Linked DNA regions of Homo sapiens. The protein of the gene in region 1 purifies or fractionates together with the protein of each later gene. This does not show direct contact. Each region holds a gene or a part of one and is shown in the gene's direction. Other genes may lie near its edges.

What was found. The genes of interacting proteins can lie anywhere in the genome.
Region 2: the proteins of SPTLC3 (region 1) and PTH2R purify together in Homo sapiens (co-immunoprecipitation; one large-scale study listed by IntAct). This does not show direct contact.

What each region holds. Positions count from the first base shown.
Region 1 is NC_000020.11:13,067,972-13,071,471, forward strand, and holds part of SPTLC3 (serine palmitoyltransferase 3), read left to right. Parts: intron 1-3,500. UniProt on the Homo sapiens protein: Component of the serine palmitoyltransferase multisubunit enzyme (SPT) that catalyzes the initial and rate-limiting step in sphingolipid biosynthesis by condensing L-serine and activated acyl-CoA (most commonly palmitoyl-CoA) to form long-chain bases.
Region 2 is NC_000002.12:208,490,292-208,493,791, forward strand, and holds part of PTH2R (parathyroid hormone 2 receptor isoform 1 precursor), read left to right. Parts: intron 1-347; coding exon 348-389; exon of another isoform or gene 390-494; intron 495-2,972; coding exon 2,973-3,368; 3' UTR 3,369-3,500. UniProt on the Homo sapiens protein: This is a specific receptor for parathyroid hormone. The activity of this receptor is mediated by G proteins which activate adenylyl cyclase. PTH2R may be responsible for PTH effects in a number of physiological systems.

The sequences.
Region 1 (3,500 bases):
CTTTTCACTTTCATACAAGCATCAAGCCTTGTAGCAGGGTTTTTTGGAAAGAGCATGGTTTGGGAACTGGAAATATTAATAATTCCCATTTTGTCCAATCAAGTTTTCTGACTTTCCATCAACTTATCTATAAAAGTTTGATAGAAATATCTATAACACTTGGAAAATTATAAATTATCGTACAAATATAAAGATTGAAAAATAAAGATTATGACATTGCAGAAGAAACAATGCTATTTTTGTGGGTCTTTTTAGGTTTAACTCACTTCTTTCTACACTCCATTCTCCAAAATGATTGTGTCCTTATGGCCTGGTATTTTCTATCATATCTAGCCATTTGTATAGAAAGCAAAATAAAGATGGTAAGCCAAATGACAAATTAAGTCTATAGATAAATAAAGATATATCCTATTGCAATGCTTTTGTTTTTGAAATATCAAGTCCAGCTTCATTTTCTGGTTTAGTTAAAATGCTGTGGGAAGCTTCTCTGGGACTAGAGGACATTGACCTTTGGAAGGCGTTGGCTGCTCCTGAAGAAAGCTCCTGGCTGTTTAAAGGAATGGGGTGGAGTGGAAATACACACAGACAGGAAACCTCACAGGTGGGGAGAAGAGGGCCACGCCCAAAAGCAAGTCAGTTCATTCACCGATCAGATCTTTAATTCTAAGTAGGTCTCCAAACTCAATTGGCCCTCTCAGAAACATGTAGGTTACTGACCTTGTGTATCAGATCTGGGTTAATGTTTATGTCATGCACAAAGAAATAACTCTGAGTACTTTAAAAAAAAAAAAACAACAACAACAACACTAGCCCTTCCTTTTTGCAGGGGAGTTGCAAGTACTTAATTTATACAATTTCCATTAAGCATGAAGATTATTCCCTAGAAGGAAGTCTTTTCTGACCCTGCAGAATATATTAGAATCCCTGTATCTTGCCCTCAAAGCATTTATCTCAGTGAAGAGCCAGCTGTCCATTTCTACATAGGTACAAATTCTGAATCCCTGAGTCAGGAGGCAGAGAGGTTAGACAGGATGAAGTATTTTCCGACCTTCTCTTAGGTGGCCATGACAATGCATCTTCATGTGGCATGGGCTGGGAAGCCATGGGCTGTTTTTTCAAGCCAACGCCAAGTTCCCTATGACTAAAGGACACTCCTACTATATATAGTCTGGCAACCTGCTGGCCCTAGTTTTCCATATCACGGGCCAGGGTTTTTGTCATCACTGGTGTTTTGGAGGGAAGCTAGGTATGACCGAAATCACTCTGAAGTCACTGTCTAGGGGAGTGGGTGAGGTCCGAGGCTGACCAGAGTTCAAGTCACGCACCTTTCTGGGCCTGATTCTCCTCATGGGCCGAGTGGGTGTTTGAGCTCTAAAACAGCAGTCCCCGATCTTTTTGGCACCAGGGACTGCTTTTGAGGAAGACAATTTTTCCACCAAAAGCCAGGTGGGGTGAAGGGGTATAGTTTCAGGATGAAACTGTTCCACCTCAGATCATTAGGCATTAGATTCTCATAAGGATCACAAAACCTAGACCCCTCGCATGCGCAGTTCACAATAGGATTTGCACTCCTATGAGAATCTCATGCCACTGCTGATCTGACAGGAGGTGGAGCTCGGAGCCCAGGTGGTAATGCTCGCTCACCCGCTGCTCACCTCCTGCTGTGTGGCCTGGTTCCTAACAGGCCACAGACTGGTACCTGTCTGCAGCCCAGGGCTTGGGGACCCCTGCTCTGTGATTGTTGTGGCCCCTCTAGCCCTGGTGCCCTGTGCATCTTGTAGTTCCAAATCTGAAATTAATTTTAATTTTATAGACAGAATACTTTGATTCTTGTCTCCTCTCCAAAACCAACTGATACTTTATTTTGGGTAAGATTCCTCATAAAACCTAAAATTATAATTCTCTTCAGAGTCCAGAAATATTACTTACACACCTACTGCTCTCTTTTCTCATGATAGGATGAGTTTATAGATTATTATTTCAAATAAGACTTTTAAAATTATAAATAGAGAAACACAACATTTGGGGATATAGAATAATCCACAAAGCAGTAAACAGTCTGAAAAAAATGTATTGAATCAAAGAAGAAATAGTTTGAGAATGAGTTTTCTAGAATTATATAATCTTGTAGCCTCAAAAAATATGTCTCTTTCCCTGTGAGAAAGACATATAAAGAGTATAATTGATTATCAGAAACTTGGAGCTTTAAATCATAACAAAACCTACATCACAGCTACTTAAAGAAAATGCATTCAAGGTGAGACTTTTAAATGTAGAATTGCCCGACCATCCTTCAAATTTAAACAGTATATGCTTATGAACATTCTTTCCTACAAAAGAAAAGTATACTTTTTCCCCAAGAAATGATGCTGTTGTCACCAAGGACCAAAGGATGAAGTGACAGAACGATCTGTGGCTTGGGTGTAGCCATCTGCCATCAAAACCTGCCTATTCTCCATATTATATTCTGCAATGAACCAGTGCAGAGAATGAGTGGGCAAAGCGGTAGCATACGGTCATCCACAAAGGCACTCCCCATGGTCTCCTTGTTCCTTGAGGAAATCAGCTTCATTTAATAAGGGAAAGGAGAGCCAAGTGCTCCAAAGCATAGGCGGGAGAATGAGAAGGCTCACTCCCAATTATTCAGTGACCCCTCATTACCTGCAGGATAAAGGATGAGCTCTTCCTGCAAATGCTTCGGGTCCTCAAGCTTCCCACTGTCTGTGCCCAGCTGACATTGCAGCCTCACCCACGCTGTAGGGAGTCATTAGGGGATGGGGTCAGAGAGGTAACCAGAAGCTATATGAGTCAGGATGTCTAATCAGGAGTGAGGTGGGAGCCATTATAAGTTCTGAGCAAAGAGTGACAGCGTGTGCATTATATTTTATTCTTATCAATTCTTCCCAAATGCACTCCACATTCCCAGCATACAAACCCACTCCCCTGAGAACTCCCCAAGCATCCCTGCCCATAAAAATCTCATTCTGCTTTGGTGTCCATCTCCAAGGACTCTCCCACATAAAGCTTCCTTGATTCCTCCAACAAGGTAGGACTCTCCCTCCTACTGTAATCCCACGAATGTCCAAAGTGCTTGGCTTAGACGACAGTTACCATTATTGCATTTTCTGCCTTGGATTAATTTTCTTCTTGTTTGCTCCAAGAATACTCGCAGGAGAATCTTGAGGCTGCAGCATTCATCCTAAGAAAACCTTGCCATGAACTATTAATATCTCACTTGTATTATTTTCGCATTACTCCAGTATATCAACTTTGAAAACAAAAGACATCATTCTATTTACAGCATTCTGGTTTTAGTAATGGTATTTCCACTTACATAATATAGTAACTCTCTAGCTCACGGAAAATGTCAAATCCTAGAAAACGTAGCATTCCTACGCGTGATGTTAGCATCATTCTTTAACAGTTGTTAGCCAAAAATTAATTTGATGAATCTGATTTTTCCTAAATAGATTATTCTGATGCAGATGATTTTGATGTTA
Region 2 (3,500 bases), on another chromosome or scaffold:
TTTTCAGCATTTACAGCTTATAACTTCCTCTTACCAAGCAGAGGATAGGTATTATGTGATCCATGGGTCACAACATAAATGAAACTAATAGGATAGAAACCTATTCCTTGTGTATCTTGGAATGCTTTATTTAGTGACTTATTTGGTTCAGCTGACACCAAGGAAAGACGTCAAACAAATTTAATGTAAACATAAGGATTTGGAAACACTAGGAGAGAATAATTTGTATATAATTCTCTGAAGGAATCATAAAAAACAATTTTTGGACGTACACATTTTGGCACAAGATGCTTAAGTGCTGTGAGTTTCTGAGTTGGCAGTGGGCTGACTTTCTCTTTTGTCTGCAGGGTTTCTTTGTGTCTATCATCTACTGCTACTGCAATGGAGAGGTAGGTTTGTAGGAACCTTGGACAGGTCTCGCTTCAGCTTGTAAATGGCCATCACAATGTATCCTGAATCTCTTTAGAATTTCCAGGATTTCCAGGATGGAATGGGTGAGGAGAAGGAAGCTATTTTAATCATAAATTATTTTGGAAAAGAAAGAATTAGTGCAAATAACCTAAAGTCTTCCTCTTCTAGCACTTTTAAATGTGAACTCATCTGTACACTCTGACATTAAAAAGCAACTTGTTGGAATACAAACAGACACTTGGATGGACAGTGAACATCATATTCTGGTTAATACTTAAACTTCTATTCCATTTTAAGTTCTGTACAAAACTTATTAGTTTCCCTGGGACAAATTCATTCAAATATTTTGATGTTTTTTGAACTATAAGATGATGATGGGACAATTTTAGTTCATTTAGGAGTTGGCTGGAGAGAAGTAACTACACTAGATAATAATACATTTTACCTTGTAACTTTTAATATGCCCTGCTGTTGGATGAGCTGCCATGTTTCTTCTCTCAAATTTTAAGCTTGCTGCAGGCCCCAGAAGTGCACAGATACTTTTATTGCGGTACACCAGCTGATGCTTCTGACCATGTTTAGGGTTTGGACATTGTGGCATGCTAGTCCAGTGCTTGCAGAAAGAGCTTAAATTAATTTCCTGACTTACTTGTGTATTGTTCTTACCTTATTTTGCAGGAGGGGTAAGTAGGTCAGTTTAAGAGTTAAAGAAAGAGGAAAGAAACCCAAAAAGCACTCAACAGTCAAAGATGGGTTTATTTAGGAGAATAAACCTGGGAGGGGCTTCTGGCCAAGTTAGGTCAGAGAGCCTTCTCTCTTACAGACTAAGAGTTTTTAAGGGTTCAGGGTGGGAGAGCTTATCACAGGCTTGGACTGCTTCTGTATCTCTTTGTCTTGCTTATCTGGGAGGGAGAATTTTTGTGTTTTATCCATACATCTTCCTGCAGCTGCAGGCACAGCCCCTCCTACCCCCCGCCCCCCAAGTCTGCTTTTAGCTTCCATATCTTGGTGCACCTAAAGGGAAAGGAATGTATTTATTAGGACCCACTGTTTTACTGGGGTCCATTGTAGACTGTGAAGTTTTGTGGTTACCCAAGAGACTTTCTCCACTTCCTCTGTGCCCGAGCTGTCTTATCAGTGTTTTATACTGTCTGCTCTTTCTGGCTGCTTGTTGTTAGAAGGGAAGTGATTTCCTCAAAATGCATGAGGTTAGAAAGGGAGCTGGACTTAAAGTGGTGGTGTTTATCCAAGATGATGGTGCTTCTGCTCTGTCAGTCAGGTGTTGATTTGTTTTTGCCAAGATGAACAGATAGAAGTTTGTTGTTTCAGGTGACATCAGCATACTGGATTTCCACTGCTTCCCATGGAACTTCCAAATAAACTCTCTTCTGAAAAGTGGCAATTGAAGTAGAAATGAATCTTCAGTAGTAGGAATGGAAATAAGAGCCCCACCCTATTAAGAATGCATTTGCAGTGCCTGCTTTTCTATCCACGAGCCTTCTTTTCTCACTCTGACTCCTTTAGGCTGCCGATGCAGATTGATAGCATGACAGTTACATTTCAAATTGAGTACCTTCTACGCCATTCCTCAGCCTCAGCTGGTGCCAAAGACATCAGCAATTTAAGTGGTGAAAACAGATTTTATTCAGTAACTACTGACAGCAGGGGAAAGAGCTGAGCCCAATTCCACTTCACACAGAAGTGATTTGGGCATTTTAAAGGGAGAATGAGGGAGGTGGAGTGTAAGGGCTCAGTAGAGTCAAAGAAGTGAAAAAATATTTGGTCAGTATAAACACGTTTAGGCCAGCTGTGCTAGCAATCAGGCAGTTATTTAAGATAGAATTCTATCTTCCCACAGAGACTGGGAGACAAGAGGCCTTATCCCTCTTGATTTTTATATTTTGAAGGGATGGCTCTCAGGTCCTTGAGAGAGATGCTTCTGAGTTAGAAGAGCTACATATTTACAATTGTGAACCTTTTTAGTAAATGCCCTAAGAAAGGGGAGTCATGGGCCTATCATCAGGTGTGTGCTGGCTAGAGCAAATAGTAAATTCTCCTGGCAGCACTGAGCTTTCTCAGGCAGGCACTATCAATGGCTGAGATCATCCTAGGGATGCCACCTTGTGCTGCTAGAACCATGCTTGAGTTTGGGCAGGTCTCAGTGCAGGGGTTCCAGTGGGCTTGTCATGTGCCACGCGAGAGTTCTGAAGTTCTCACTGGCAATGTTTATCTTGAGTTTCTCTTCCAACCCAGAATCTCCTTTTTTTCCTCTCCCATATGTCAGGTATTTCTATGGGCTGCATTTAAACTTCTGTTTAAAGTCTGATCTTGGACAAGTCCCTTCACCTCTCTCTAAGCTTCAATTTGCTCACCTCCAAAACTAACACCTGTCTTGAAGGTTTTTTGAGGTTGAGAGAAAGTCATAGATAAAGTCCCTGGCACGTAGAGGAACCTCAATCAATGATTATTGCTGTCATTGAAATCAAGGCAAACATCTTTGTAACAAGGCTGCAGGGTCTCCTTTAGGATTTCTCATGCACAGCATGTTTCTCGTGGCTTAGGTTCAGGCAGAGGTGAAGAAGATGTGGAGTCGGTGGAACCTCTCCGTGGACTGGAAAAGGACACCGCCATGTGGCAGCCGCAGATGCGGCTCAGTGCTCACCACCGTGACGCACAGCACCAGCAGCCAGTCACAGGTGGCGGCCAGCACACGCATGGTGCTTATCTCTGGCAAAGCTGCCAAGATCGCCAGCAGACAGCCTGACAGCCACATCACTTTACCTGGCTATGTCTGGAGTAACTCAGAGCAGGACTGCCTGCCACACTCTTTCCACGAGGAGACCAAGGAAGATAGTGGGAGGCAGGGAGATGATATTCTAATGGAGAAGCCTTCCAGGCCTATGGAATCTAACCCAGACACTGAAGGATGCCAAGGAGAAACTGAGGATGTTCTCTGAATGGACATTTGTGGCTGACTTTCATGGGCTGGTCCAATGGCTGGTTGTGTGAGAGGGCTTGGCTGATACTCCTATGCTTGAGTTCAAAGGCTGAAAATTCAGTTAAGGTGTTACTTAATAATAGTTTTTAGG